Linked DNA regions of Homo sapiens: all the other regions are linked to region 1. Evidence: fine-mapped expression QTL. A gene starts in region 1. Each other region holds a variant in brackets. All regions are shown on one strand. Distances are from middle to middle.

The links. PIP is the estimated chance that this variant, and not a neighbour inherited with it, causes the effect. A credible set is the group of variants that fine-mapping cannot tell apart.
Region 2: its variant is the best candidate, but not a certain one, in a credible set for the expression of TPM1 in whole blood (INTERVAL, PIP 0.58).
Region 3: its variant is the best candidate, but not a certain one, in a credible set for the expression of TPM1 in whole blood (INTERVAL, PIP 0.73).

The regions. Positions count from the first base shown.
Region 1 is chr15:63,036,918-63,047,731 of GRCh38, reverse strand. TPM1 (tropomyosin 1) reads right to left here and starts at 4,985. Exons shown (of 10, transcript NM_001018005.2): 1 at 4,789-4,985; 2 at 3,580-3,705. The coding sequence starts at 4,902. It overlaps TPM1-AS (TPM1 antisense RNA), which reads left to right. Exons shown (of 2, transcript NR_147233.2): 2 at 1-1,698. RefSeq lists enhancers at 3,300-4,213, 5,127-6,041.
Region 2 is chr15:62,998,468-63,009,281 of GRCh38, reverse strand. No RefSeq gene overlaps it. Among named protein-coding and RNA genes, the nearest start is that of TPM1, 39 kb to the left of the region's middle. The variant T/ACT (reference allele first, on the strand shown) is at 5,742.
Region 3 is chr15:63,072,763-63,083,576 of GRCh38, reverse strand. No RefSeq gene overlaps it. Among named protein-coding and RNA genes, the nearest start is that of TPM1-AS, 29 kb to the right of the region's middle. RefSeq lists enhancers at 3,474-4,149, 4,150-4,827. The variant A/G (reference allele first, on the strand shown) is at 5,988.

The DNA.
Region 1 (10,814 bases):
TACGATTAAGAAATACACAAGCATTGTTTTAAGAGTCAGGCTGAGGCCCATAATCAGCTGTGTAATCTCAGGCCAGCCTCCCTGGGGCTCACTTTCCATGAAAACAGTCATCCAAATGGTCTCTTCTCTTTACAGCCTTCTTTGGTGTCAGACCAGCCTCTGAGATCTCCTGGAATCCAGTCAGTCCTGGGCTGGACTGGGATGCCTTTAAAAGGCACCCCAAGGAAAGCCACAGAACCCTATGAGAGAGCCTCTGGCTACAGGTGGAGAAAACCACCGCAGATACAGTCTCCACCGATTTCCCCCTTGAGCTGTATTCTTAAATGCCTTCTAAGTCTCAGGGCTTTTTCTCCTCAGGTTTGTCACAGAAAGCTCTTAAAGCCAGCTCCCTTATGTGTGGGAATAATAAAGAAAACATGCTTGACAACCCTCTCCTCCTCCAAGCCCTAACAAGGAACTTTTGCTTTCCTGCCTCATTTTCTGTGGAGTTCCTCACAGCCTCTGCTGAGACTCTCACAAATCCCAGCTTGGGTCCTTGCATCCTGTAGGTGGGAGCTTCTCGCTTTGTTTCCCCGCGGTTCATCTGGTCAGGTGGGGAGGTTACAGCTGGTCCCCTAAGTGCAGAGACTGTGGGCCTCCAACATTGAGAATGGGGGAACCGGGTGTCTGGCAACCTCCAGGAGCAGCCAGGAAACTGCTGGACACTGGCAAGTGCCATAAGCAGCCAACTAGTGACTTAATGTCCTGGGAAGGTCAGTTTCAGGTGAGTTCATTTTCATGCCGATGTCATTATACAAGAGTTTAGGAGAGTTTTCTCATCCTTGTCTGTAGGTTGGAATCACTTGGGTATTTTTTAAATGCTGCCGCCTGGGTTGCATCCCCAGGGATTCTGATTTAACTGGCTTTGGGTGCATCCTAACTTTGGGTTTTAAAAGCTCCCTAAGTGATTATGTTTAGAGAAGGTTGAGAATCCCTAAGTTAAGAAGTAAAGACCTACAAAGGGATAAAGACTCATATGCTATAAATATCAGATATATCACAGTTACTGGGGAAGAGATTGGGGGCCAGAAAAAAATGGAGTCTTCGATCCCCTTCAGCCTCACTTTTGACTTAGGTGGAAAGACAACACAAAATTCGAAACAAGACCATCAGGGATACTACTCCTGAATGACAATCTTCTAAGCTAGGTAGAGCCCACTTCCAGAATAGGATTTGTAAAGTAGTAGAAAAATGTTTTTAGTAATAATAGTAGAAAAATGTAAAAGTGTTTTACACTGGTGAATAATGACAATGAAATGTCCTAATCCCAAAGGTAATACGATTCCACCTCAGGAAGCTGACTTCTCCCTTACCGGACTTCTCCCTTTTTCTAGTGACATCTGTCTCTTCCTCCTCAAGTTTTGACTATTTTTTAGTAAATAAAAAACGAATACTCTCAATATGGTCATGCACTGCATAATGATGTTTTGGTCAATGAGGGGCTGCATATATGAGAGTAGCCTCATAAGATTACAATAGAACTAAAAAATTCCTATCGCCTGGTGATTTGTGTTACAATTGTTGACAGTATTCAGTACAGTAACACACTGTACAAGTTTGTAGCCTAGGTGTTTAGTAGGCTATACCCTCTAGGTTTGTGTAAGTACCATACACTCTATGGTGTTTGCACAATGAATAAATCACCTAACGACACATGTCTCAGACCTTATCCCCCTTCATTAATCAACAAATGACTGTATAGCATTTCTTCACTAACTTCTTCAATATTCCTACGGGCTCCAAACTCCAGACAACCTAAAGTGTCCTAAAAGGGAATGTGATCAATACACTATCAAAAAAGCCATATATGCCAGATTTAGGGGCAGTTTCCCGGTGGGAAAAATAACCAAAACAAGATTCAAGAAGCTCCCTCCCCTGCTGCTTCCCACACCAGCTGACTTTAAATAACTTCTTTCCCATTTCTGCCCCACCCCATTCCAGCGCTCCCTTCAACAAGACTTTTCAATAAAGACATGTTAGCACTACATAGTTACAATAATTATTATCCTATTTTTTTCCCTTAAGAATTGTAGTAACCTTTTTCTCCCTCTTTTGCCTTCAGTCTTACTGGGCTATTTTCAAATTCTCTGCATTCTTTTCCTTATAAGGAATATCTTTCCTTGATCTATTAGCAGCTCTTTTGAAAAAGCTAAATAAACGTCCTGCTGGAGAATTTGCGGGAGGCAGGCATCTTCCATTTAGCCATATATAGAGCAGGCATCTGATCTGCATTATACAAAGTAGGCTCAGAGTCATATATGGTTTTTGGCTCTTTTTCCAAAGCCAGGTAGTTTAGAATTTAAATGTTTTAGCGAAATCAGTGCTTCCCCCCAAATCCCCTTTCCAGGAAGCTTGATTTTCACTGAAAATTTCTTTTTGTCAGATCCTAAATGTCGTCTCTGGAGTTCTCATTTACAAAGCACACCTGGATATACATCTCAAGCCTTTCATGCTACAAAAGACTTCACTAATTTCAAGACCTGAGACCCTTCAGTTATTTGCATGTTACTTTCATATAAAAAAGTCTGCTGTTGCTCTCGGTGTTTCAACTGCTGGCATAGCTTTCCCTGGTGCTCACACATTCTTGGAATTGTTACCAACTTCCCAAGGAATTCTTTTCTAATTGGGCCTCTAGGCTTAATTAGCTTTTAGAATGGAATCCAACGGTGTGAAAAGAAGTTGGTCCTTTGGCTTGACTTTCCGAGGCAGAAGAGGCAAGCTATCAATTAAAAAGCTTCCAAAGGGCAGTGGACAAAGAGCTTAGGAGAGCCTTAGCTGTGTGCATCACCCCTGCAACTATGTGGTGGTTGTCAGAAGGCTGACAGGTGGGGGCGGGGCCAGCAGGAGGGGCAGGGGGCAGCTAGCTCACTATACCATATAAAGCACTGAGCTATATATAACTCACAGCTTACTTTCTGGATCTAGTGCCTTCAGACTGCAGACCCAAGCAAGTATCATCTTCCCAGGCAGATCTTAAGGGGTGGATTAAGGCTTACACTAATGAGAAAGGAAGCCTCAAAGTGTCTCTGTGCCCCACCATGAAGTGCAGCCATCTAAGTAAAGGTACCGCTGTGTCATTTCTTTCATTTAGAGGCCAGGTTCTCTGAACCCTGACTAGACCCACCACCAAACCCAGAACTTCCCACCCACTGGAAACGGCAAAAGGAAAGAAAGTGAAGAAAACCTGGCATTCTCTACACAAACCTTGGTGATGACACCTCAAGGGTTTTCTGCCACCAGGGAGGTGAAGTTCACCTCCAGAGTCCAATTTCAGCTGCTCTATTCTCCCAGCCTCTCATCCACCCACCTCCACCCCCAGGGAGGTAAAGGAAAGGAGAAGAAGAGAGGAGTGGATGAAATATAAATGAATGTGTGCAGTAGCAGTCAGAGGCGGCATCCAATGCTCTGGGCCATGGCAGGGCTGTGTGCAGGTGTCCAGCAGGAAAAGGTAAACTTCCTTCATTGCTCTCCAGCCCTGTGGTGACCCCGGAGTGGCCACGCAGGCAAGAGGTGAGGGAAGCAGTGTGAGCGTGCACTTACATCGGTGGCCTTTTTCTCTGCCAGCTCCAGCTTCTCCTGGGCATCTTTGAGAGCCTCAGAGTATTTGTCCAGTTCATCTTCGGTGCCCTTGAGTTTCTTTTGCAGTGACACCAGCTCATCTTCCAGCTGGGAGTTGGCCAGGGGGTACAGGGAGGGAGGGGGGTGCAGCAGGCAGCGTGATCCCGAAGGGGAGGGGTGTGGGTGCACAGAACCAGAAGGACAGGGACAGCGGGAGAGACAGAGGGAAAGACAGGGAGGGAGAGAGAGAAAGAGAAAGAGTTAGCCATTCGTGCGCCACGCCGTGCCGCGCGCCCCGGGTACCTTGGCGGCGGCCTCTTCGGCGGCCAGGAGGCTGTCCTCCGCCTTGTGCAGCTCCTCCAGCACCCGGTCCCGCTCGTCCTCCGACACCCGCAGCAACTTCTCCTTGGCCGCGATGTCCTCCTCGAGCTGGGGGCAGCGGCGGGCGGGCGCGGGCGGCCGGCACGGACCGGGTGTTAGACACACACAACACACGGGCGTCGGGTTGGCTGGGGCCCCTCGGGCTCGGGGCGCCGCCGAGTTGGAGTGCAAAGGACCCGAGGTAACTTCCTCTTTACCCGAGCTGGAACCGCTCCGCGGCTCACCCCGCACACCCACCTGCCCTGGGACGAGACTCCTGCCGAGGTCTCAGCGGGCTCAAGTCCACTACTTGGGGACACAGAAGAACGCCACTGCTGGCCTGGCTTTCGGGCTGTAGCCTCCATTCCGCCCCATCTTTGTTCTTAGGTAACAACTCCAGGACTCCCTTCTCCTCCCCAAGTTTAAGGTTCCTTTCTCCCCAGTCAAAAGTCAACGAACTTCTAACACTTGAGTTACTCGACCCCCTTTCTCCATCCCTCGCCCTTCCTTCAAACGTCCCCAGGAACCGGGTGTCCTCCTCCCTCCCCCAAACTGATTCCCAGTCCTGAGAATAAAGCGCCTCTAGGACTTGATTTCGCGGGCCATGGGAACCAGAGAAGGGAAATAAGCGTCCTCAGACCAGACTAAGTTAGACTAAGCCTGGCTCTTGCGTTTCCCTTCCTTCTTTCCAGACGCGCGCCCTGGCCGCCCTGGGTGGTGGTGGGGGTAGGGTGGTGGCTCCCCGAGTCCTCGGGGTGGGGATCCAGCCGGGGGTGCCAGGCTCGAGTCCCGGCGCTCTGGGCGCGGGCGCAGGGCCGGGGAGGCGCAGACCTGCTTGCTCCTGTCTTCCGCCGCCTTCTTGTCGGCCTCCGCCTGCTCAGCTCGATCCAAGGCGTTCTCCTTGTCGAGCTTCAGCATCTGCATCTTCTTCTTGATGGCGTCCATGGTGGCGGCGGCGAGGGGCCCTGGGGCTGCAGCAGGAGCGGCGGGGCGAGCGCGCGGTCGGGCGGAGGAGCGGGAGTGCGAGCGCGGAGCCGCCTGCTTCTCCCAGATATGTACTTTCCCAAGGGGGCGACCGCATTCCTCAAGACAGCCAATACTTTTTTGGAAAAGCTTTTTTCTCCTGCCCCCCTTCCTCCTCTCCTCCCTCCGCCCCGTGCCCCCTCCCCGCTCCTCCCGCGGGGGCCGCTCGCCCATTCGCTGCCGGCCGCCGGCCTCCCAGTTGACGGTGGATATGACTATATATGGGGACCCGAGCCGCCGAGGCGGCGGCCGGAGAGGCCGCCCTGTTTCTAAACCTGCGCGCCAGGGAGAGGGCGTTGGGGCCGAGCCGGGGCCGAGGCGCAACCCTCCGCCCTCCGCGTGCCCTTCTCCCAGGGCCGGCACCCAGCCATTAGGGTCCCCAACCGAGCCCGCCCTGAGCTGCCGGAGGCCGGGAGAGCGCGGACCAGGTGGTGGATGCGCGTCGCCCCCCTGTGCCGTCCCCCGGCGCGCTTAGCCAAAGGCCCGGGGGCTTCCCAGCCGTGCTGCACCCCGCGTCAGGGTCAGTGCGCTCTCGGCACCCGCCAGCGCCTCCCCGGCAGCTCTCAGCCAGCCAGGTGTCATCCTGCGCGCTCACGCTCTGGAAACTCAACTGCAGCAGAGAAAGGGAGAACGTGGGAGAAAGCCTGGGGCGGCTCTTGAGACTTTCTCTGCGGGCGCGGGTCAGAGAGGCAGGGGGCGGCACAGCGACAGCACACGGAGTCTTGTTTTCTGCCTGCCCTTTCCCCCAGCGGAGGGACAGTCAAATACTTTAGGGACACAGGACTCAGTGGCGTACTTCTGTGCTTGCTGTGCAGTGCCTCCAAAAAGGTGTGCATGTGTGCGTGTGTGTGCGGGTGGCAGTCTAAGGGGAAAGAACATTGAGTTTAGACTCAGGCAATTTGGTCTGTGGTCTCTACTCTGCCACCAGCAACTGTGAGACCTTGTTTGCTGCCCGCGGCTTCCTCAACTTTAAATCCAGCGGGTAGATAATCCCCGAGGTCCCTCCAGATATAACTTGTTATCATTTTTCTTGCACTGATTTTAGGGAGTCGGCCTTCCATGTTAGATGCTTAGGTGCCAGGTTTCGGAAAACATGGGATCGGCGTTAACCTGGCTAAGTCATTGCATCCGCAGCCGCAACTCTGAGGAGGCTCTGCCGTGTGAGCTGTGCTTGGAAGGAGGAGGATTTCCCCCAACACTTCTTATTTTTAACTACTCCTCCCATCTCCCAAGGGGGAAAGGCTGCTTTTTTTCAGAGCTTCAGTGGGAGGGGAGGAGAGGGGGCTGCCCCCAAGCCCTGAGATCAGCTGAGGCAGGGTTGGTGAGGGTCTTGTTAATAGTCCCCACAGAATAATTCACAGTCTGTACTGCATGGTTACCAAATATTCCCCGGACGGTATCTGAGCAGATTAGGCAGGCCAAACAACTTGTAAGTCCTTCAGAGAATGATCAAATTCCTCTCCAAGATTTTATCGGGTTTCTTCCACTAACCTAACTGCCCAGGAGGGAAAAGATACACTGACCTAATGGTCAGAACATTAGATCTGACCATTAGCATAGGGGCTGCGTGGCACAGAAATTGACCAGAGCCCTTTAATCACGGTGTGTCAACCCAGCCACCGGAACAGTGACAAAGTTCCAGGCATGTGGACGATATCCAGATGCGTGGACTCCAGGGAGCTGACTCCCCAGGTTGGAGCTCAGCAGAGGAGGCAAGAATAGGGAGTTAGGAGTCAGTTCCAGGGATCCAGACCTGGCCTGGTCACTTCCTTGCAGTGTGACCTTAGCCATGTTACAATCTCTCTAAGCCTTTTTTCTCACTTATAAAAAGAGGCAACTGAACTAGAGAAACTCCTTGCGGGACCACATGTTACTGACTTTTCTTTTCTTACTGTGCCATATGTAGCCGAGGGACTCATTAAAGTTTCCTTAAATGAAATCATGCTACAAGCAATTTATTAAACACACGGTTGTTGAGTACCTGCTATATACTAGGCAGGTACTAGGCTCTGGAATCCAAAGAATGAGTAGCACAGGTCTATGTCCTCCAGGTGTTTGGCATGAGAAAGGTGTTAAGAATTCACACGAGGAAGAAATAGAAATGACTAGGTCAGAGCAGATGGGAAAAAATTCTCTGAAAAGGTGATGGCTTTTAAACTGATTTTAAAGGAAGGGTAGCAGTTAGCTAGAGAGGAGGGCCGTTGTATGCGCCAAGGAAAGAAAAAGGAATGTTTGGTGGTGGTTGGACAGTAGGATTTTGGGGGTGAATGGGGGCATGAGACTGGAAAGGAAGCTTGGGGCTGTATGATAAAGGGCCTTGAATTCCAGATTCAGACATTCAGACCTTATTGTGTAGTTTAAAGCCATCGATGTCTCTTCTTTTCACCTCTTCCTCTCCCAGACTCCCTCACCTAGGGCCTATATTCAGAGGTCGAAGCCTATGGTGTCAAAGTATGGAAATGGAGCTATACAACGCTAACTTTTAAAATCCCTTAGTACCACATCATTGATCTCTAGACTGATGGGTTAACATAGCAGGTCCTGAATTCAATCATTTCTTTTAACCCATGTTGAGATTCTGCCATGTGTCAGGCCCAAGTCAGCTTCATGGGCTATACCACCCATGACCTTTTTGTCACCAAGGGCTAAGACAAAGCTAGGACAAGCAAAACGTCATGACTTAAATAACACATTCTTCTGTAGTGAACAGGTCTCCTGGTCCTCTCCAGAGGTAGGCTGGACAGTCACAGGCTGTATGTAGTGTGTATCCCTGTTCTCTGGCTGATTGGCCACAACTCAAGGATGGATCTAAATACTAACCAGGGACTTGGCGTTGTGGCTTGTCAGGCAATGATGAACTGGGCCACTCAGCTTCTTTCATTGCAGTTTGAATTAAGGAACGTGAAAAATGGGAATCACTAGCCGTGGCTGCTGAAACAAAAAGGGATTGCAGTGTCGGGCTGGAAATGCCACGTGTAAAAGTGATTAAGGTTATTCACAATTTTTTAGGTTTTCTCCCCAGTCAATGTCGTGGTAGCATTGTACATCCCACCCAATTAAGTTGGCTGTGGCCATTTGACTTGCTTTGGCCAAGGAAACGTGAGCAGAAATGACTTCTGGTGGATACTTAAAGAGCTCACGACTAACCATGTTCATTTTTCAAGACTGTGGCTGCTCTGTCATTGTGGGTTTTCAAGTGGCTCCCTCTTTCCCCCCAACTAACCCTTGGTGGACATGTAGTGAGAATAAGATATAAATCTTTGTTATTTTAGGCCACTGAGATTGGGGGTTGTTTGTTACTGAAGCATAACTAGCTTCTCCTGACTAATACAGCACAATAGGCATGCATCAGCTAAGTTATGAAAAAGCAGAGAAGTGATTATAGAGAAAGAATGAAGCAGGCATATCAAGATAAACAGAAGCACCATTTAGAGAAAGAGATTGGGAGAATATGACCAAATTTCAGTTCCAGGGGTCCTTATAATAACCCCCTGTATTTCTTGAGGTTACATAAGCGAGTCTATATTCCTTGAAAGTAAAAAGCTTACCAAATCATGGTGGCATGACAGCCTGCACAACATTCAACATTCTTGGCCTAGAGGCTCTACGTGATCACCACGAACATGCTTGGAATTTCCAGATTTCTCCAGTGCCTGGTATTCAGTCATTTCTCAATGAATGTTTGTTGAACAATTTTTTTTATGACTGACAAGTCCAGCTTTCTTACTGACTTACAAGAAAGTCTGGGAAGGTAAAGTAACAAATCTAGGTTCAAAAGATCTTGTTTCCATTCAAAATATGGGCTCTGTGTCTTATTTCATGAAGAATGAATATAAGTATTGTGATAGGGTAAGACAAATGTCTCCAAATATTTATTGGACACCTTTTGTGTGCAAGACATTTAGGGCTTATGGGATCCAGGGAAGCAGACAAAAGACATGGATCTTTTTCTGTAGGAAAAGTGTCTATGTATGATGCAGGGAGAACCCTCTCTTTGGGAGTCATTTAATATGTATTTCCCATGGCATGACCATCAGCTCAGTTGGTCACCTGGGGCCCTCTATAGTTATGAGGATCACATATCTCGGGTTTTCTAGGAAAGCTTTAATATTAAATATGCTGCCTTTTTCCTTCCATAAAACACTTGTATGTGTCATACTACATTTATCAATATTTGGTTACAAAGGAGAGTCAACATGAGCATCATTTCCCAATGTGACACCTTTAACAGGAATGCCCACTTGAATATGTACATCAGGGTTTGTTTGTTTGAAAAAACAAAATGAAAACCTCATTACCTGATAGTCACCCCTTGTTTAACAGCAATAGCCCTGCCGGTGTACTGTGACTCCCCCAGAGTCAACAGTGCTGACTGAAGCAATTAAGGGAAAGTGAAGAATCTATAATTAAATGGAGAGACGACTGCTTCTTCGTCTCTTTTGGAATGCAGCGTTTTATGCTCACGACTCAGTGTCCCTGGAACAAGATACGGCATGCTCTCCTCAAACACTGGGAGTTGTGTTTCCCAAGGGTTTGTGATGCTACCATCAAGGCCTCACAGAAAATATGCTATGCTTCCTGGGGGCGGGGGGTGGGGCTGGTTTGGATCTCTGAGAAAGGTCTTTAGGCCATTTTCAAGGCGTGCCTGCCTTTATTGTTTAGTAACACACAGCTGGTCCTGATTCTTTGGAGAGGCCCTTGAGCACGCTTATTACCTGGAATGTTTGCATGGGCAAAATGATTGTCCCAGTACAAAAAAAAAAAGGCATAGGAGTTTTCCTGCCTTACCTCTTATTGTCTGTCTCTCAACAGTAGCAACTCAGTGTAGATTTAATCAAGCTCCAAGTGTGGCAGATTTAGCTGTCTTAAGAAAGGCGATATTCCTTCATGTTTGTATAGTTTATAAAGCACTTTCAAGTTCATTACCTCCTCCTCCCAACCTCTTATGACAGCATCAGGATGAGTTCTCTGATTTTCACTCTGTACATGAGAAAACCAGGCCGAGCACAGTGGCTCATGCTTGTAATCCCAGCACTTTGGGAGGCCAAAGCAGGAGGATCACTTGAAGCCAGGAGGTCAAAACCAGCCTGGGCAAATTTGTAGAGCTTCCCCCCATCTCTCCAAAAAACTTTAAAAATTAGCGGGGCATGGTAATTCACACCTGCGGTCCCAGCTACTCGGCAGCCTGAGGCAGGAGGATCGCTTGAACCCAGGAGTTTGAGGTTGCAGTGAGTGTGCCACTGTACTCTAGCCTGGGTGACAGAATGAGATCCTGTCTTGAAAAGAAAAAAAACCTAAACCAAAACAAAACCACACACACCAAGGGCAGTAACTGGTTCAAGACCACTCAGCTGGGAGGTGGCAGTGCAGGAACAAAAATGCAGATATCTGAACTCTCAGTAACAATGCCCTTTTCATTCATTCATTCCCAGCCTGTTTTTAGGTTCAGTTTGATTTCATATTTATTTTATGTTATTTTTATTATTATTATTTTTGAGACGGCGTCTTGCTCTGTTGCCTAGGCGGGAGTGCAGTGGCACTATCTCCGCTCACTGCAACCTCCACCTCCCGGGTTCAAGCGATTCTCCTGCCTCAGCCTCCCGAGTAGCTGGGATTACAGGCATGCGCCGCCACACCCAGCTAATTTTTGTATTTTTAGTAGAGATGGGGTTTTACCATGTTGGCCAGGCTGGTCTCGAACTCCTCACCTCAGGTGATCTGCCCACCTGGGCCTCCCAAAGTGCTGGGATTACAGCCGTGAGCCACCGCGCCTGGCCTTATTTCATATTTAAAAGCAATACATTATAAGGGGAAGGGGGGGGTCGCTAAGGTCG
Region 2 (10,814 bases), 38 kb after region 1:
TGGTACCCATAGCCTGCATTTTATTTCATCTTTTCTCCATCTCTTCTCTCTGAACACTTACACAGGATTTTCAGATCCCCATAGTTTAGAGACTAAATGCGGTTTTGTGTGGCTCACCAGTTACCCCGCGAATTTGTCTTTCCATTTCCAAACAACTAAATTATATACAAGTTATTTGATTTTTTAAAGGGGGGCGAAAGGGCATCAACACTTTTAGCTAAGGTGAATAGCTAATCCAGTTTTATAAAGTTATTTTTAAAAATAAATCTTGCCAATTTCATAGCAAGTTTATGGCATGATGCAAGTTTATCCTGCAGACTTTATGGTCTATGGAATCAGAGAGATTTGGTTGAAATCCTGGCCCACTGATTGCCACAACTGGGCAACCTGTTTCTTCTTTTAACTCAGTTTCCTCATCTCTAAAATGGGCTGGTGATAATTGTACCTACTTTATAGGATTATCGAGACAATTAAATGACACAAACCAGATCCAATCATGAGAGGATGGGATAACTGTCGTTTGCCCCTCTGACCTTGTAGTGGGGGACAGGGGTGAGTCCAGCACCTTCTCTTCTGGGCACTGTTCGCAGGCTGCGTCCCTTGACCCCATCTCAGCTCCTGTCACACTGCCCTCTCCACATACCTGTCTTTGTCTCCCACCTTTTATCCTTCAGCCCAGGAGGTAATGGCTGGCACTATCCACCCTGGGCTACCGCATGCGCCTATGGGGTTTCCCCACACTACCCACACCTTTGTAAATAGTTCCTTTATTCAACTCTCCTCAAATTACCTGATATGACTATTCAACTTGCTCCCTGACTGATATATACTTAGTATACTATATATACTTAGATACATACTATTACTATATGTACTTAGATATATACTATTACTAAGTATATGTCAGTCAGGGAGCAAGTTAAACACTCAGGTAATTTGAGGAGAGTTGAATAAAGGAACTGATATACACTAAGTATATCAGTTAGGGATATATGAGCATGTGATACATCAAACTGGTATACTGAGCATCTACTATGGGCCAAGTATTATACTAAGTATATAAGGGCCTGACTGATATACTTAGCATAATACTCGGCCCATAGTACATGCTCAATAAATGGAACTATTATTAATATGTAGAAGAGAAAACTCCATGCCTTTTTAAAGGAATGTCTGGGCATATTTATTGAACAACATTCATTGACTCAACAGATATTGAGTTCAAAGTCCCATTGAGTCAATATCAAAATCGTATGTTATTTATTAGGTTTTTTCCCATTTATTATGCAGCACCTTCATGTGGCATGAGCAACATGGAGATGAACCTCTTGCTATTGGTTTCAGCGGGGGAGGGAGCTCACTGGGGTTTCCTCTGTCATGACAGCTGACAAGCAAACTCATCAGTCACCTGTTGCCCGACTAATCAGTTAGAGCTCTTACCTAGAACTGAGCAGTCAGTCACGATCAGGAAAAGTGAATTCTACTCACCGGGTTCTCTCTGGGGAGGACACAGGCGCAGAGGGGTGAGCGGCCCTGTCAAAATCGGCCTTTTGTCTGGCTCTAATCTAGATGTGAAGTCCTATTCGATGTCACAGACTTGGAGGATTCTGTAAAGTGGGAGAAGAGCCCCGAATGAGGGCCGAGAAACTGGGTTCTAGCCCCTGTTTGGCTGATAGCTTTCTGTGGGTCGACGGCGACTGTCGTCTTTAGGACTTGCTTTCTTTCTCTGTGAATTGAGATGGTTGGTCTGTTAATTGCCTGTGGCCGCTGTAACAAATTACTACAAACTGAGTGGCTTAGAACGACAGGAACTTATTCTCTCCCGGTTCTGGAGGCCGGAAGTCAGACATCAAGGTGTCAGCAGGGCCATGCTCTCCACAGCTTCTAGGGAAGAATCTTTCCTTGCCTTTTATGGGTTCCAGTGGCTCGTGGCATTCCCTGGCTTATAATAGCATAACTCCAATGTCTGCTTCCATCTTCCTGTGGCCTTCCTCCCTCTGTGTGTCTCCATGAGTTCACTCCTCTTCTTATAAGGACACCAGCCATCGGACTTAGGGCCCACTCAAATTTGGTGGGATCTCATCTCAGTCCTTAACTAATTACGTTTGCAAAGAGTCTATTTCTGAATTAGGTTACATTCTGAGGTTCAGGGTGGACATGAGTTTGGGGGGACACTATGCAACCCAGTACAGTTGGATTCTGGGTTCTCGATAGTTCTTACCAGTCGCACTGGCTCTTGGAAGTTGATGGGTATGTGGCATTCCCTAGTCGGGCCTCTCTCTTTGCTGGACTACTTTGAAAGAGATTGGGTAGGGCAACATTACACTACCCCACACTATATCATGCCCCCTCTCTTTTCCCTCCCTCAGTGTTACCACTCGACATTACTACAGCTCTCCCCTCCCCTCCCCCTGACTCCTACTACTGGGATCTGTGGGAGCCTGTCTGTGTGCTAGGCACTGAATCCTTTCTCTTCCAGTGGTGCTATGAAATAAGTATTATTACCATCCCCACCAAAGGTGATGAAACTGAGGCTCACACAGCTGCAGAGTGGCAGAACCAGGACGTGAGCACAGGTCTAGCTGAGCCAAAGCTCAAGCTCTTGCCACATGCCTGGACGTTTGAACAACAGAGAAACAGGCCTGGCTTTTCTTCGACCATACTTGACTTTCAAGGCAAAATTGTGAAACTGGAAAAAGTAGTTTACACAATTTCCCTCTGAATTGCCTGTTCTTGTCTTTGCCTTTCTCCCATGCCCTAATCCCCCATGGCGGAGTCTAATACCCTAAGGCATGCTCTGGCCTCTCTGCTCCCTTAGACACCTCATTCTCACTAAGGCAACAATGCCTGATAATAGCATAGAACGCTGCCCTCACCTCACCCTCAACCCTGAAGGGCTGTGCATTAGCATGTGGCTGTGCGTGTATGTGTGTGTGTGTGTGTGTGTGTGTATGTGTGTGTGTGTGTGCATGTAAGCCAGTGTTTTTCACTCAGTTTTCCTTGCCTTGCCCTGTTCTTTCTAAGGGCAGGACTGTGCTTTGCCTGACAGACCAGGGCAGTTTCCTGCTCTATGTTTACAGCTTTTATCATAGTAGCGTACAGTTTGAACTCAACACACCTACAAAAAAAACCCTTAAACCCACACTTTAGCCAAGGCCTGATAATATTTAAAGAAACACGGATTTTGAGTGTTTCATAGTTTTTCTAATATATACTAAAAGTTTATTTATGCTCTGTTCTCACTCATAAGTGGGAGTTGAACAATGAGAACACACAGGCACAGGGAGAGAAACATCACACCCCAGGGCCTGTCAGTGGGTGGGGAGTAAGGGGAGGGAGAGTATTAGGACAAATACCTAATGCATGCAGGGCTTAAAACCTAGATGACGGGTTGATGGGTGCAGCAGACCCCCATGGCACATGTATACCTATGTAACAAACCTGCACGTTTTGCACATGTATCCCAGAACTTAAAGTAAAAAAAAAAAGTTTACTCGTGCTCTAATATCTCCTATACTACAGTGGCATGGGAGGGACCCACATTTTGGGAAGTGATGGCTTAATGTTCTGCCATCTACTTGAGACATTTTCTAAGGATGTTGAGTTTATTTATTTATTTATTTATTTGGTGAGAGTGGATATCTTTGAAGATCATGAGCAAATGTTTAGGGGTATATACATTGATATAACTCTTTAGGAAATTAGGTCGGTGATACATATTAGGGGCCTTATAACAGGTAACCTTATACTTATTATTCCGGGGAATAATTCCTGAGATAATAACCCTCAAAGCAGGCTGGGTGCGATGGCTCATGCCTGTAATCCCAGCACTTCAGGAGGCCGAGGCAGGTGGATCATTTGAGCCCAGGAGTTTGAGACTAGCCTGTGCAACATGATGAAACCCCGTCTCTACTAAAAATACAAAATATTAGCCAAGTGTGGTGGCAAGCACCTGTAGTCCTAGCTACTGGGGAGGTTGAGGTGGAAGGATCACCTGAGCCCAAGAGGTCAAGACTGCAGTGAGCCATGATAGTGCCACCGCACTCCAGTCTGGATGACAGAGTGAGACCCTGTCTCAAAAAAACCCCCAAACAAACAAATAAAACCAACCAACCAACCAACCAACAAGGAACTCAAAGTAGAAAAGGCTTGATTTGTTTCATAATGCCATTTACAATAGCAAATGTTTTGGCAGCAATCTGAGATTCCAATGATTGGGAGGTGGTTGCATAAATCATGGCGTATCCTTTCTTAGAGAATAACATGCAACTATTAAAATGATGCTCACTCTATAAAATTAGGTGAGAGAAGCAGGACACATAAATGAATATCAAACATCTAAGTTGATCATTATTATATAAAATGAAATATGCATAAAGGAGAGACTTGCAAGAGATATTGCTAAATGTTAGCCAAAGGTTGTTCGTAGATCATTTTCCCCCTGTAATTTCTACGTCTTTATTATCTCCAAGTTTTAAATAGTAAATTTCAGGGTGGAGGAATTAAACCATTGACAAGGTTATTCATGTATCTTTATGTTCATTTTCTGGACAGGGATATTGTGATGATGGCCCTGATTCATTTAGTTGGAGCCAAAGTTTCCAAAAAAGAAGTTGATGCTCTTGTTATTGATGTGTGTGTGTGTGTTTAGTGGGGTGTGATGTGAGGTGAGTGCCTCCTGAGGAACACTGAAGATTGACAGGGGGTCTCTAGGAAAGGGAGACCCAAATACAGTCCCCCAGGGTCCCATGCACAACCTGCTCATCACTGCCCTGGCAGTACTTGAAGACACATTGTCCTCTAAAAGAAACACCCAGCCTGACATCTCAGATTACTGCCCAGAGCCAGGGAAAGAGAGTGAAGAGATTCCCCAGGGGTGGGGTGCCTCCTCCTGGATGTCTTCAGGACAGTTCATTTGGCCATGGAGGTTTTGGAAGGCCCTAGCTGGAGCCCTGAGGTAGGCACTGAGTTGGGCCCTGCCGGAGCTAGGAAACAAGCCTGGAACAGAACAGCCTAGCAGCAGAGTAGCTGTTGACTGAGTGCCTATAATGCATGTGCATACGGTGAGCTAGTCCTTGAATTTTTCTAATTTAACACTCATAATCATCCTAGGAGAAAGGGTTCCAGCCCCCATTTTGTGGATAAGGAAACAGACCCAGAGAGGTTAAGTCACCTGTGCAGTCACACAGCGGGGATTCACACTCAGGTTCAGCTGACTCCAACACTCCCACACTTTCAGTGACGCTGCCATGAATCTCCATGGAAGGGAACTAACACTATTGGCCCCCTCCCCTGCTTGACCAGTTCTGTCAAGCACTGGGTAATTGGGGATGTAGTAATAAATCAAGCCATACTTCCCGGGGGATACAAATCACATTGCTGCTTCCACTTTTTAAAGTCAATTTCATCTTAGGCTTCTTGGGACTGCCACCAATGCCTAGCCACAGAGAGGGCCAGGGTCCATGGAAAGTGCTGAGATGCTGATGTGTACACATGTGCTCTATTGCGTCCTCATGGACCGTGCTCTACTTCATCCAACAGTCATGCTGATTACCTTCATATTAATGGGACAATGTATGGTTGGGCACCCCCCTTCCTCCCTGCTTCCTTCTCACTCATCGGCTTTCAGCCTGGAGCACATACCTGTGGTTAAATTATTAAACCTTACAACAGGATAGAAATGATGACAGCTGTAATCCCTACACACACACACACACACACACACACACACACACACACAC[T/ACT]TTCACGCCACTAACAATTTGCTGAAAATGCTGACTTAATAGTATTAACCTAATGGCTGGGTTGAAATAATGATAATAATGATAATGATGATAGTAATAGTAAAAGAATTGCTCTCAAATCATTCTGACAGGTATTGCAGCTTCAGTTGCCACGCTCATTCCCTGAGAAAGAATTTGCATTTTAAGATTCAGTTCGTTTCAGGCAAACGGCTCCCCAGGAAGATAAATGAGCCTTTAATGAGGTTTTTCCTTGCCCAGAGTGAAATCTTACTCCTTTCTGCAAAAGCAGGTGAACACCAATTTCCAGACAGGATTCAGGCCAAACCTCTACATTTCCAGACTTCCAGGGGGCAGACTGGAAAATGACATCTATTAAAAATCCTGCGCTCATGCCTGTAATCCCAGCACTTTGGGAGGCCAAGGTGGGTGGATCGCCTGAGGTCAGGAGTTCAAGACCAGCCTGGCCAACATGGTGAAACCCCGTCTGTACTAAAAAATCCAAAAATTAGCCAGGCATGGTGGTGGGGGCCCGTAGTTCCAACTACTTGGGAGGCCGAGGCAGGAGAAGTGCTTGAATGCGGTAGGCAGAGGTTGCAGTGAGCCGAGATCGTACCATTGCACTCCAGCCTGGGTGACAGAGTGAGACTCTGTCTCAAAAATAAATAAATAAATAAATAAATAAATAAATAAATAAATAAATAAATCTTGGGCTCTGATTTAAAGTGGTCCCCAGTGGGGTGTCATTGCACTGTGGCGGTGTTTTGGATGGGGGCATGATGTGGCAGGAATGTGGCTTTCTGGCTCTCTCTGGCCCAGCAATGGTGGGAGCTTTTTTGGAACACCCCTAAAAACCAGGGTAAGTATCTTCCCTCTAGCCATAGCAGGCAGACCACGGTTTGAAATGCTCCAGCCAGTTAAAGAAGTAGCATTGGGGTGCAGACCCCAAAGGTGTCTCCACAAAGACTTGCTGAATGCCTACCGTATGTGGTTCTACACAGATGAAGATGACTAGGATATAGCTTGAACCCAGGAGGTGGAGGTTGCGGTGAGCCAAGCCCACGCCATTGCTCTCCAGCCTGGGCAACAAGAGAAAAACTCCGTTTCAAAAAAAAAAAAAATGCTATTTGAGAGATAGTCTTGTTCAGCCCTTCTAAAACTCTTCTGTTCACTTGCCCTAGTTTTAAGGGTTCCCATCTGGTATCTTAGTCTTGGGATGTCCCTGTGCTGTGGAGTTGTCTGTGGGACAGTAACCATATTTATGTTACTCTTTACTATTTTGCTATATAATATTCTATTGTTATTAAGTTATAGTTTATAATTTCCATGATTATTCTTCCTTTTACCCATTAATTATTTAGAGGGGCATTCAGAAATTTTCTTAACACATGGGTTGTGTGGAAATGTTTTGGTTACTGACGTTATAATTTTATTGCACTGAGGTTTGTGAATATGATCTGTATAATATCAATTCTTTGATGCCTTTTGGTATTTTCTTTGTGGCCTAGGGTACATGGTTAGTTCTTGTAAGTATGTACTTGAATAGCTGTTTATTCTTTATTTTTGAGGTGCAAGTTTTCATAAATAACTGTGGTTCGACTCTGCTGTATCCTTCACAATTTTTTGGTCTGATTCAATGCTTTCTGAGAGAAGTGATTAAAATCTACCACTTTGATTATTCATTGTCAATAATATCTTTTTGTCGGTTTTTGCTTTATATATTTCGAAGTTGTGTTGTAAGGTTACACAGGTTCAGGTTAACTATATTTTTTTTTTTGGTGAATTGTTCTTTATCAAGACCTTTTTATTGCCAAGTTTTTGTCTTAAGGCTTATTTTGTTTCAAATTAATATTGTCAAGATCAACTTCTTTTAGTTAGTATTACCTGGAATATTTTTTCTTAATCTTTTGGTTTTGATCCTTTCCTGTTTTTGGTTTTAAATGTGTCTTTTAGAATAGCTTTTAGCTGGATTGCAGTGCCTAGACCACTGCCTAGTATGCATAGTAGGTGCTTAATAATTATTTGTTGAATGAATGAATGAAAAAATTAAATCTAATCTGAAAATTTATCCTTTAACAGATGAGTTTAATCTGTTATAATTCTTGTGATTATTGATATTTGACCGACTTCTACCACTTTTTGTTTTCTAAATACATGTTTTATATTTCCTTCTCTTTTTATTTTCCTGCTTTATTGACTTCTACTGGATTAGTCGAATAGGTTTTATTTCATTTCCCCTTCTACTATATTGAAAGTGATTCCTTTTCTGTTGTTGAGAAGTGATTGAGTTCTCAATCACTTCCTATCTCTGTGCTACCAAGAAGAAAATAGAGAAAAGAAATAATAACAGCTATTTATTGTATATCTTGGTCAACATTTGGAATAAAGGACATTTGCTAACTATGCCCTTTGATCAGCACAATAACCCTGTAAATTCAATGTTAGAATGCCCATTTTACAGATAAGAACTTCGAGATTCAGATAGTTTAAGTGACCTGTCCAAGGCCCTACAGCCAGTGACCAGCAGATCTGGGGATGAAACTTGTTCTCTGTGATTTCACAGTATGCGTTTCCTGCTGCCAGCCACACTGCTGATGCAAAGGCCAACCCCAGATTGCTGTAGGACAGTTATCACAGTATTTCTTAGTTCCCACAGCCATATTCTGGTCACCAGACCTTGTTATCTCCGTGTCCTTGTGATAATTCAGAAATGGAAATGAATGAACACAGGCCTGGGGTACAAGTTCTGGGCACAAGAGAGCCATGAGCTGAGAAGTAAACAGAACCCTTAAAGCCCTCCAAAATTAAATTGGTCATAATCTGAATGAATTCTGTCAACTCTTTTTAATAACATCTCCAAATCAGCCACTTACTGTGTTGGGAATGCATTCTCTTCTCCCATTTGATACTTAGCTGGAGCCCGTTAATAAGCAGACAAAAAGAACTGTAATTCTTGCTACTATCTCTGCAAATTGATTTTCAGCTATTTGTTCTTTCTTCAAACAGCTTCCAATCTGCTTTGATTGTCTCCCTCTGGAAAGGGTCTGACGGCCCAGATTAGAGAGGGGGAGGAACATAGGGCCACATGGTCACTGGCTATAGGAGAGCAAGGACAGAAGCTTCTGAAGCTGTATTAATATTCAGTGTCAGTCGCAGGATGGATGGGAGAGGGAACAAGCTTCGGGAGCCTTTGATGAGGTCACCCACAGAGGAGGCAGGTGCTATGAATAAGATTACCCACAATCCCACAAGCTCCCGATGAATTCCCATTGCAGTAAACAATGTCCAGTGGAATGGTAATCCTGGGGTTGGATGTCCTGCTGATTTTGCAGGGGTACAGGTGCATCTTTGTCTGAAAGGGCGGTGTTCCTTTCTAGGATGAGAGTATGAAAGAATGTGACCAAATTTCTGAAATTCCATTCAGGGACTGCAGCCATGCCCAGTAACTGCACCCGCAAGCGTGTCTGCGAGGCGTGCAGCCCGGGCTGGCCAGAGGGCCTCACTGGGCCCTGTTCAGGATTTCATCTCTAGTGGAGGCACATGCGTCAACTCGCCCTTGAGAGGCACTTTTCAAAGTGGGTACCATCTGAATCCAAGCCAGTTGGTGGGGGTACAGGGTTGGTTGTGCCTGTTAAAATGTGGATCTGGGGCCCCACCCTAGACTTACTGAGTCAGAATCTAATAGGAGGATGCCAGGAATCTACATTTCCAATAAGTGGCTGGGGTGATTTTGGTACCAAGTCTAACTTGTTCTTCAGGGACTCTCTGCAGGTGCCGGCAGCCTCCTGTTGGGTGGCTGGGCTGGTGCGAGGGGGCACATACTGTTAGAGTAGATGAATAGTTAGACATAAACAAAAAAGAGAGCCCCTGGGGAGGAAGTTTTGGAAAATGTTATGTTCCAGAGACTACTTAAAACATGTATGTTAAATATAAACAGAGAGGAGGGAAAATGCCAATGCAGAAAAAGTGCCCCCAAACGCTCCTTAAGACGTCTTGTAATTTTGTAGTTAACCTGTCAAAATGTAGCTAGCTATGTATTAATAGAAAGGTAAAAAGGGCAAAGAAAATATTCCTAAGAAATCCACAGGCACAGTAAGTACAGTTGTAACCCCCCTGTGACCCTTCTGTGGTGGCGGTACATGAGCAAGGCCACCATTAGGTAAGGTTCGTATTGATTACCTGGCCCTGCACAAGTGTATCAATGACAGTGAGGGAAATTCCACAAACCTAGGTGAAAACTAGGAGGGAGCAAAAGTGGAGACTTAAAACAAAAGCAGAAAACTAAACAAAGAAAAAGGTGGAGTGTTAAGATGGAGGCAGGAGCTTAAAGAAACAGTCTGGCATAATAAAAACTGCAATACAAAAGTATCAGGGCTGCTCCCAGCCGGAAGAGCCCAGTCCTCTCTTGGAGTTTACTCTTATTTCCTTTTGCTTACTTTACTAATTGGTCTCTTAGCCAAATTCTTTCCTCCAGAAGGACTAAAAACCGAAGACTCCACACTTCCCAGTAACAATAGGAAGTGACAGAAGGGCCCTGGATGAGGAATCCTGACCCCAGCTTTCTCCTTAGCTTGCTCTGTGACTTTGAGCACGTCATGTTGTCACCGTGGGCCTCATTTTCTGGTCTGTTAAGTAAGTGCCACCCAGAGCTTCTTAGTAGAGGAACAGGACCAGAATTAATGGCCCAACTCTCTGTTTTGGACATAAGAGTCTGAGGTGGGAGTAGAACTTCTGACTGGAGGTAATAATTACAGCTCGTTTTCATCGCATGCTTACTGTGTGCCAGGCACTGCTGTAGAGATTTAGGCATGAGTATTTTTCTTTCATCACAGCCCCATGAGGTTGCACTTTCATATTATCAGTTTACAGATAAAGAACATGAGGCGAAGAATAGTTAAGGTCATAGCTAGTAAGAGGTGGAACAGGATTCCAAACGCAGACACTCAGACACCAGAACTTTCGCTGTTACAATAAAGATCTACTATATCTCTCCATCGTAAATGTCCTGCTGGCAATTGGAAATACCTGAAACAGCTAAGAGGCTTGCTCATCAGGCAGATGTGGCAGTCATCAAAA
Region 3 (10,814 bases), 36 kb before region 1:
ATGGAACTTCTCCCGGGGCCTTACCGTCCCAGGGCTGAGGCTGGAGTGAAGCCCGGTGCCTGGCCATTGGTGCTCCCTTCCAGGGCTGGGAATCCTGAGCTGAATGAACTGGTTTCTTTTTCTTGCCACCAACCACCGTGACACCTACAGTCCCTCTGAATAATGCCCATGTTACACACCACATCATATCTCAGAGCCCTGCTACTCAAAGTGTGGCCCACAGGCCAGCAGCACCGGCATCACCCAGAGCTGGCAAGAAACGCAGAGGCTGGAGCCAGCCCCCACCACAACAGAATCTGCATCTGGACAAGATCACTGACGGGCTCCTGCGCTCATTAAAGTGTGGGGAGTGCCTCTCTACACCTTTCCTCACCCTCCCACACCGTTTCGCAGCAACAGGGGCCTGGGGAAGGGGCCTGTCTTCACGTGCATGAGTTGCTGAAACCGAGGGAGGCTTGCGTTTCCAGATGACCTCATTCCCCGAGGACTCCTCAGCTATAGGCTTCTCAGACGCACTCACCTGATGCATAGTGGATGGCTGACTGTAAAATAGGAAAAATTGGGCAATGATTTCAGAAAATAATGACATTTAAACAAACCTCTCTCCAGAGAAGCCCCTCCCCTTCCAAGGTGTGGGGCAATGGAGGCCGGAGACTCCCGAGGTTGGTTCATAGGGTAAAGCTTCGCTACAAGTCCCTCAAGCTGAGATGGTGGTGGTTGTGGTTCCTTTTCCCTAGAGAAGGGACCTACTCTATCTTCTTTTTAGGCGGATCAGGAGTGAAGAAAGGGCATGAATAACTCTAATATTTATAGGTAATCTGCCTTGTAGCAGGCCTCAGACATGTTTTACCTTTTATTCTTTTTTATTTATTTGTTTGTTTATTTACTTATTTAAATAGAGACAGGGTCTCATTCCATCACCCAGGCTGGAATGCAGTGGTGCAATCGTGGCTCACTGCACCCTTGACCTCCTGGGCTCAGGCAATCCTCCCGCCTCAGCTTCCCAAGTAGCTGGCACTACAGGTACATGCCACCATGCCTGGTTATTTATTTATTTTTGTAGAGATGAGGTCTCACTACGTTGCCCAGGCTTGTCTTCAACTCCTGGGTTCAGTGATCTTCCTGCCTCGATCTCCCTGTGCTGGGATTATAGATGTGAGTCATCACACCTGGCCTTTTTTCTTTCTTTCTTTTTCTTTTTTTTTTTTTTTAGAGAGTTGCTCTGGGGATCAGAGCAACTGTCACCCAGGCTGGAATGCAGTGGCGAGATCATAGCTCATTGTAGTCTCCAACTCCTGGGCTCAAGTGATCTTTCCACCTCAGGCTCCAAGTAGCTAGGACTACAGGGATGTACAACCACACCTGGCTAATTAAAACAACTTTTTTTTTTTTTTTTTTTTTTTGTAGAGACAGGGTCTTGCTTATGGCCCAGGCTGGTCTTGAACTCCTGGCCTCAAGCACTCCTCCCATGTCGGCCTTCCAAGTATCTGGGATAGCTTTTGTTCTTTAACACAACTATAAGGCGCAGGCTCTTACAGAGGAGGAAACTGACATTCAGAGAGGCTGAGTAAACTGCAATTCAGAAAGGCTGAGTAACTTGCTTCAAATCCCCCAGTTGTTAACTGGGAAGAACTAAGGATTGAACTTGGGTTTTTCTCAGTGTTGCAGATTCACAAAAGTACCTGCAACAAAGCACATGCAGTATAAAAGTGGTCTGCATGTCTTCATACGATCAATGGTGGTGGTGATGCTGATGGCTCTGAGTGTGGGGAAAGGTGGGGTGGTGGCCTTGGGAGAGTCAAGGACACAGACCAGGGGCTTGTGGAGGGCTCACCTCTCTGTGGTGGTGAGCTATAAGACCGACGAGATGTGCAGCTAGCATAAGACATCATCCTTTGCACCAAAGGGATTTGTAACTCAAGATAAAACATCACTAAACTATGAAACAAATGGAAATAAGACTACATACATTCAGATTTTTCCAATAATGACTTTGTCAATGCCTTTTCTTTTTTGAGACAGGGTCTCGCTCTGTTGCCCGCCCAGGTTGGAGTGCAGCGGTGTGATCACGGCTCACCGCAGCCTCGACTTCCTAGGTTCAATTGATCCTAGGCTCATTTCAGCCTCCAAAGTAGCTGGGACCACAGGCGTGTGCCACCACACCCAGCTAATTTTTTATATTTTTTTTGTAGAGATGGGGTTTTGCCATGTTGCCCAGGCTGATGTTAAACTCCTTGGCTCAAGTGATCCTCCTGCCTCGGCCTCCCTAAGTGCTGGGATTACAGGCATGAGCCACTATACTTAGCCAATGCCTTTTTTTGAAATATAAAATAACAAAATTCCGTCGCTGTGTCTCATTCTTTTGGGTGCTATGCTTTTGTCTATGCACGCAGTACAAACCCTCGTAGGATAATCCAGCTCTAATGAGTGGGGAGCTGACCTCCTGATTCCTTTTAATCCCAGATCTGAGGCCAAGGGATGTTTGCTCAGCTAGTGGAGGTGGCAGTGACTCCTCCACCTGGAGCAGCAATGGTGTGCACCATTGTTAGGGAGGCGAGTAGGCTAAAAACTCACGTAGTCACTTCTCTAAGGTTAATTTCTGGAGTGCCCGCTATCCTCATTCCTGGGCTCTCAGTCAAGAATGTAATTGAAGCCCCAGGACAATGGAGTGTGAAAGGAAAGATGTTCCCTGGTGTCAGATGCCCTGGCCAGCCAGAACCAAAAGCATGGAGTAGACGCTTGGCTTTTATTCCTGGTGTTGGCTGGGTCCCTGTGTCCTGCCCTATTCCTGAAATCCTCTTTAGGCAAAAGCCAAAGCTAACTAGGAAGCTCCAGCTTGGGCCTCCTCTGGCATCGCCAGGACCAGCTGTGACAGAACAGCTTGCTTCCTTCTGCCAACCCCCTTGTTTAAAGGTTAAACATACAAAGGCAGGAGCCGCAAGCCCAACAGAGGGTACTGCAAAGCAGCCCCTCAGATGCTAACGATTTCACCAGACGACCAGGATATTATTATTGTCTGAACTCAACTTCTAAGTGCCCTAGGAAACCTTTTAGTGGCTGAGAGTACGATCACCAAGGAGGTGAGCTAGGTTTTCACAGTGTCATTGAGAAGTCCCCAGGAAACCTAACCCCAGTGGCAAACCCCAGTGTGCCCTGGGGAGACACAGGACCTGGGCACCTCTTCTGGATGCCACTGGGCAGGCACTTCCTGGAGAGCTGATGAGGGTCAGTCATTGGGGTCTACTCGAGGCCCCTCCTCCCACACTGGAGAGGGGCTGTTCTTACTGCTCACCAATGCCGGACTTTAGTCCTGACGGGCGGTGAAGTGTGCTTCCATCAGATTTCAGGGGAAGATCCAGCTGGGCTATCAGGCTAACTCGCCACTGGCCCTGACCCATCCCGATGAATCATCCTGGTGAAATGAACATCAGAGGCAGCCTTGAAGGAGAAAATGACAGCACACTAAGGCAGCCTGATAGGTGAGTAGGGAAGAGGTGAGGGGCGGCCTTGTCTTTGAATCCTGGGGAGCGTGACTTCTACGGGCTGATTGCCGGGATCTAAGACTATTTAAAGAACAGGGCAATAGAAGTTGTCTATCACTGAGAGTTTGCTATGCCAGGCACCATACTAAAACTTTTCATGCAGTATCTTAGTTATTCATGCCCTGAACGTTATGATGTTGGGTACTATTATTATTATCCCCATTTTGCAGATGGGGAAATAATTGCAGAGAAGTTGAGCAGCTTACTTTAAGTCACACAACCAGTACATGGCAGAGGTGGCTGTTAAATTCTGGTCTAATTTCGAAGGCTGGGATTGTACATACTATCTAGGCTGCCTCTTTAGCAGGGCAGTTAAGTTTTCTATATGGCTGCTTCCTTCTTCTGTCACTGTTCATCATCCAGTAATTAAGGGTCTTCCCAGAACTGAGGCCCGAGGCAGTGCCTCTAAGCCCACACACCCATCATTCACTTTTATCAACTCAGGTCTAGACAAGGGGTACAAGAAAGAGCCGGGTGGCTGCGGTGAAGGCATGTCTTAAAGCTCAAGTTTGTGTGTTTTTGTTGGGGGAGCAGCACAGATGAGGGAGCGGGAAAGGGATAACGTGTGGAACTAGATTTCTTTTCCTTTCTTCTTTTTTTTTTTTTGAGGTGGAGTTTCGCTCTTGTTGCCCAGGCTGGAGTGCAGTGTCTCGATCTCGGCTCACTGCAACCTCTGCCTCCCAGGTTCAAGCGATTCTCCTGACTCAGCCTCCTGATTAGCTGGGATTACAGGCATGTGCCACCACGCCCGGCTAATTTTGTATTTTTAGTAGAGAAGGGGCTTCTCCATGTTGGTCAGGCCGACAGGCCAACCTCAGGTGATCCACCTGCCTTGGCCTCCCAAAGTGCTGGGATTACAGGCGTGAGCCACTGCACCCGGCCGGAACTAGATTTCTTAAAGGCTTTACCACACCAGTTTGGGAAAAGTTGTTTTGCTTCTCTTTTAAGAACCTGAGGCCTGGAAATCAAAAAAGGGCTCTCCAGGCTGGAGTCCAGGCCGGAGCAGGAATCACCACATAGTTAAGAAACAACTTAACACTATATTTAGGGTATGTCTGTGCTTAAATGAAATAGTTTTTTTTAAGTGTATGTTTTCATTTCTTACATGTCAGAAAATATCTGTATTACAAAAAAATCTCCCATCAGTCCTAGTTGTGAGAACAAAAAATTAGAAAAACCCAGTGATCAAAAAGAGGAGAACAAATTATGGCACATTAACCAGAAGACTAGGTGAAGCAACACAGGAAGATGTTTATGCAAAGTTTTTTGAATAAAAACCAAAATTTTGAATAAAAAGCCTTCCATAAACACACAGGCAAAACATATGGAAAATAAGTTTTTTTTTTTCCCAGTGGTGACCTTTTTTTTCCTTCATAGTTTTTCTCTATTGTTTTTATAATGCTTTGTGACAAATAAAAAATGTACACAATTATATGATGGCATGTACCTCATGTGTACATTTTGCTTATTTCCCTTGCAACCCAGTATCCAAATGTGCCAAATAGCTTTTCATTTGAACTTGCAAATTGCTGCATGAAATTTAAATATTCCTTTAAATACACAACCCACATCAATTGCTGTTATACAAATTGGAATGAACTCTTCAGGTTCAAGTAGTTTTTATCCAAATTTAATTATCCATGTTTATCAGTAATACTTTATGTTTCTGGGGTAGGAACCAAAACAAGGAGAGCAAAAGGGGAGCTCCCAGCCCCCAGCAGTTTACATTAAAACAGCACTGAAACCCAATTCTCTCTCGCCCACTGCCCCACTACTCCTCTTTCTTGGAAGGCTGGAAAATGGGTTATCTGGAGACACCCAGGGCTCCTAGCCCATTAGGATTAGGGAGGCTCTGAACCTGGCTGAGGCTTCTGAAGTCTGGCAGCCTGAGCAGATCAGGTCGCTGTCTGCACTAGCGACTATAGCAATCAGCCTGGGGAGGCTTCTCGTGGGAGAAGTGAATGTTAGCGGCGATCCTCATCCATTTGCTTTACCAGAAACCAAAGGCTCCTTCAGACCTCCCTGGTGGAGTAGGAAGCTGATTTTATAGGCTCTAAGAGTATATGTGTGCATTCATTTATGCTCTTTCCTTTAAAGCTTAACAGATGCTCTAGGATTAAAGCAAAGGTATGGTAAGACCAAAAGTTTAAAAACAAACAAACAAACAAACAAACAAACAGAACACAACTACATGGCCTACAGCAAGGAATGAGAGGTGGGTAAGAGGGGAGGATTTTAAAATGAGAATTTGGTAGAAAAAAGCTACAATTATGAACAAAAAATTTCGTAGCCAGAGTAAGTAGTAAAACCAAAGCATTTTTAAACTAGCAGAGCTCTTGTTTCTAAGATTTGAGAGGCCGGGGTGAGTGGTGATTTGCCTGTGGCTGGAGTACCCCTGAGAAAATTATAGAGCATGCCCAGGAGAGCCTTTTCTACTGGTTTTAG[A/G]TGGTTAGAAATCTACCAGGAAGGGGGCATGACATCTGTTTCCATGCAGTCTTGTATCATTTACTGTCTATTTGCCATGTAATCATATCCTGTTTTATTATTTTTTAGTGCGTTTGTGCACATATTCAGTTGCTTCCATAGACTCCTTGAGGGCAAGACGTCTATTATACTTTGTCTGTATTGTCCTATAACCCCCAACCTTGAAAACAGACCAGGATTTGCCATCATGATGTTTGCTGGCTTCTCAGCCCCCAGCCCCACAGAGCATCTGCCAAGAGGAGCTGACTCTTCTACTCCTCCGGCCCATCTGAGCCCAAAATACAGTCCCCAAAATACTGTAAAACATTCTTAAATGGAAATACAATTTGTCTTGTAGGCAAAATTATGAATCTTAACTTTCATAATTTTAGTTACTAGAAGACAATATGGAAGCTCTGTGTCTGAGAGAAAGTGAGCAGAACAAGAGATTAGAGTAACAAAAAATTGTAGCCAGAAGGGAAGAACGAAAGCCAGAAAAAGGAGGCATGGCGGATAGGAAGTTTTCAAGTAGAGGGTTAACAACTGAAGAGAGATGAACAGTTTGGCCAGGATTTGAGCCTAGCAACTCTTTGTTGAGGCACATTTTCTTGACATTCCTATTCTTAGGCAAATTATTCTGCCTTTGCTCTTTTTAATTTCTCCGGAAGGTGCTAGGCAGACAGTCCCGGAGTGTTCTGGAAAGGAGTGCTTTGTGTGAAGATAGCAGGAAAACAAATCATGGGAATGACAGGCTTCGAGCTGAGTAACCCAGGGGTTAATCACTTCCCGCTGGCTCAGGCTTCTGAGATGCAGGTATGCTTTGGCCATTCCTAGGAAGCCAGCATCCCCTTCAAAAACAAAAGCCCCTACTGCCTGGGTGTGGGTTCCCATTTCTAATATTTACATCACTGGGCTTTGGGCAACTATACTTAATCCTTTTGGGAATAGTGATGGGGCTCACTTCAGATAAAGGCGTCCTTGACCACAGCACGATTCAAGCAGTTCCTTGGCAAGTGTTTCATTGTGAAGGGTGGTTTTCATAGAGGAAGTGGACTTTGGGGTGAGGTGGGGGAGTGGAGGTGCAGGATGTGGGCAGCCCATCGAATCCCAGCTCACCAGAAGGCCGAAGGGCTATATTATACCAGTGCAGGCATCTGGGAGTTTAACACTGGAGTCATGAGTCTAACCAAGAGTCCCACTGGAAAGGCAGCATTCCAAATCCTTTCTGAGTGTCTCTGGAGTTGAAAACAGACCAGGACTTACCATCATGATGTGTGCTGTCCCCTCTGACCCCATCCCCATGCAGCATCCGCCAAGAGGAGCCAACTCTTCTGCTCCTCCGGCCCCCCTGTGCCCAGCCGGCCCCTCCGGAGACACAACAACTGCTTCCCTGCCACAGACAAAGCATCTTTCACCTTCCCGGTCATTAGCTTCCCTCTGGAGACAGTGGATTCCACGGCTCCACAGGATCTGCCTCGTGGCTTCTCTAGAATAAATAAGGGCTGAACTGCCTTCATTTACATCCGATGCCAGGCCTAAGAGCAGTGTTCTGTTGGCTTCCATGAAGCAACAAATCCAAATGCAGTTTGAGAATGGAGTAACAGAAACTTACAACAGAGCCAGCCTTTAGCTTCCATGTGAGATTTGAATCTACTACTTTGAAACATTCTTTGCCTCCTGTGCGCAGGTGATTAACAACTCAAAAACAAACTTCGAAACTGTGACTTGAGCTTTCTTTCCGGGCCACTTGTGGGGTACCATGGCCTTGCAGTGAATATCCTCCCGGGCAGTGGTACTGGGGATTTTCATTTCAAAAGGAAAAAGTTACTTTCAGTTTCCCTAAGGACCTAATGCAGGTGAAAAAAAAAAGGATTGGGGCTAAGGAACAGAAGAGGGACTCTACACACATTGCCCCATTCGGTTCTCAGCCCTGAGGAAGTGAGTGGGCACGTGGAGAGGGGCAGTGAAACCACCTCCTTCAGGGATGGAGAAATCAACGCCCAGATGGCAACATTAACCTGGGCCGGTCTGTGAGCAGGGAGCGGATGCAAAACCAGTGCCTCTGGTTTCCAGGCCCCACGCTGCACTGCCCGCCTTGACGGGGGCTGGATGACTCGGAGCAAACCACTAAATCTTTCTAGGTCTCGTTTTTCTCTGTCCTCGATGATCTTAAGGCTCCTTCCAGTTCTGAATCAGCGTTTTCAGTTTAGGGCAACAGCCTTGGCAGGTCCTGATATGGCCTTGACTCGACCCTTGGTTCTCCATGGCTTTGGTAACAAATGGAAAGAAAACTCTCACAGGCAGCAGAAAGCAGCCTTTTCCTCAGGGTTGATGCCCATTTGTCAAAAATTTGGCAAAAGTTACATTCATATTAGTGAACTCTCAACATAGTTTCATTCATTGTTTGACACACAAAATTTATGACATCTGTTGGAGGAATGTAGCTCTGAAAACCCTCAATGTCAAAAAGTATATATAATGGAAGGAACACTTCTTGTACTGCCCAACATTTCTATTTTCTTTCCAAACCTTTGTCTCCAATTCTGGAAATGATGGCTCCCTGAACGCCCTAGTGCTTTTTGTTTTGATTGGAGAATTCGGATTTTTTTTCTCCCTGTATATATATCTGACTGTAGATTTAAAAAAAAAACCAGCTACAAATAGTGTTGACAAGTTGAAAAAATGGTTCACACACATTCAAATACTTGAGTAAGACAGATATCTATATCTATATCTATATAATTTTTTTTTCCTGGAGAAAAATCAGGCCCAAAGTATTGAACTCTGGAGGACACAAACCAGCATATGCAAAAATTAGATTTTGTTTCTGTTAACGACATCTCTAGGAACAATAAGGAGGGGAATTGTTCTTTTCAATGTCAGTCTCAAAAAGTTCTGAATGTATCCACAAAGCGCTTTTCTTTTTTCTCTTAAGAACTGATTGTAGGCCGGCACAGTGGCTCATGCCTGTAATCCCAGCACTTTGGGAGGCCGAGGTGGGCAGATCACTTGAGGTCAGGAGCTCGAGATCAGCCTGGGCAACATGGTGAAACCTCGTCTCTACTTTTTAGAGTACTTTCTTACTCTATTTTTATACAAAAATTAGCCAGGCGTGGTGGCATGCACCTGTAATCCCAGCTACTCGGGAGGCTGGGGCATGAGAATTGCTTGAACCCAGAAGGTGGAGGTTTCAGTGAGCTGAGATCATGCCACTGCACTCCAGCCTGGGCAACAGAGTGAGACTCTGTCTCAAAAAAAAACCAAAAAAGCAACAACAACAACAACAAAACAAACTGTAGAACTCTCATCATTATTTTTTGAAGATGCTTATGTTTTTACCTGTGTCCTTTCTCTGTGGAGTTCCACAATGTTTTACTCTGAACAGGGCAACTGTTCAGCTGTTCATTCTGAAATCTGGGACTGCTAAGTTTCAGCAATGGAATTTAGAACATGAATCTTGAATTCTCTCTCTACACCTCATGGTTCTCCAAATGGTGACCATCTCAGCTTCCAGCCTTGGCCTTTCCATATTCAAGAGTCCTAATCTCTGTACCTTGACCTCACAGAGTGGCATGTTCAGAGGTTATCACACCCAGTCATACCCCAGGCGTGTACCATGTAGAGACAGAGCCGTTCTCCTTTTTTATATTAATCTGAAAGATTAGGTAATCATTCTTCGAATTGGCATGATGCTTCATAATTAACTGATCTTGTCTGATCCCTGGAACCCAGAGGGGAAGTCAGGTGTTAAACCACTCCCACACGGTCGTGTCAGCTGCTAAATGGTTGACTCCACCTCCATCTTCCCAGCCTCCTCCTCTCCTAATTATACCTGCGGCTTCATCTGTTTTCATCTATTATCTAGAAACTGTTTTTCTTCTGCTGTAAAGCGTTTGAAACAAGGGGAAGGAGATTCCAGACAGGGCTCAGGAGTCACACAGGGCCAGAGTTTGAAGCCCAACCCCACTACTTGGGAGCTACTGAACTGAGTATCTAAGCCTCAGTGACGTGAGGCTTAAGTGAAATAACCCTTGTGAGTACAAGTTCTTTAGCACACATAAATGGGATCCGAAAGTGTTAAAAACCATCATAATTTGGGGTAAGGTTAGTCCCCCCTTAGCTTCACAAGGATGGGTACTATCTTCTGTGGTGGTCTTTGGAGCACAAATGGCAAGTTGAGGACCACAGCAGTTAACTTTTTTTTTGAGATGGAGCCTCACTCTGTCATCCAGGCTGGAGTGCAGTTGTGTGATCTTGGCTTACCGCAACCTCCACCTCCCGGGTTCAAGCGATTCTCCTGCCTCAGCCTCCTGAGTAGCTGGTATTATAAGTGCACACCACCATGCCTGGCTGATTTTTGTAACTTTAGTAAAGACGGGGTTTTGCTGTGTTGGCCACGCTGGTCTCATTCAAACTCCTGACCTCAAGCGATCCACCTGCCTTAGCCTCCCAAAGTGGTGGGATTACAGGCGTGAGCCACCATGCCTGGCCGAGCGGTTAACTTATGGAACAAGACCTAGGCGCCTGGTACTGTGCCGTGTACTTGAAGTGGTTATAGATTAGACTCCCACAGTTATAAACTATGAGCTAGGTGCTAATCTCATCTCCATGTTAAAGATGGAGCAGCTCAGATTTAGGGACTTGACAGGTTAGGCAGTCTCATAAAGGTGGAGTCTGGATCTGAAGCCAGATCTGGCTCCCCGAGTGAAAGAGGACCAGGTTTAGGAAAGGCTTCCATGACTAGAGTGATGCAGAGAGGGTTTTTTCCTAGCTGAGGATTGGCAGAGGTGAGGCGAGGGGTCCTGAAAC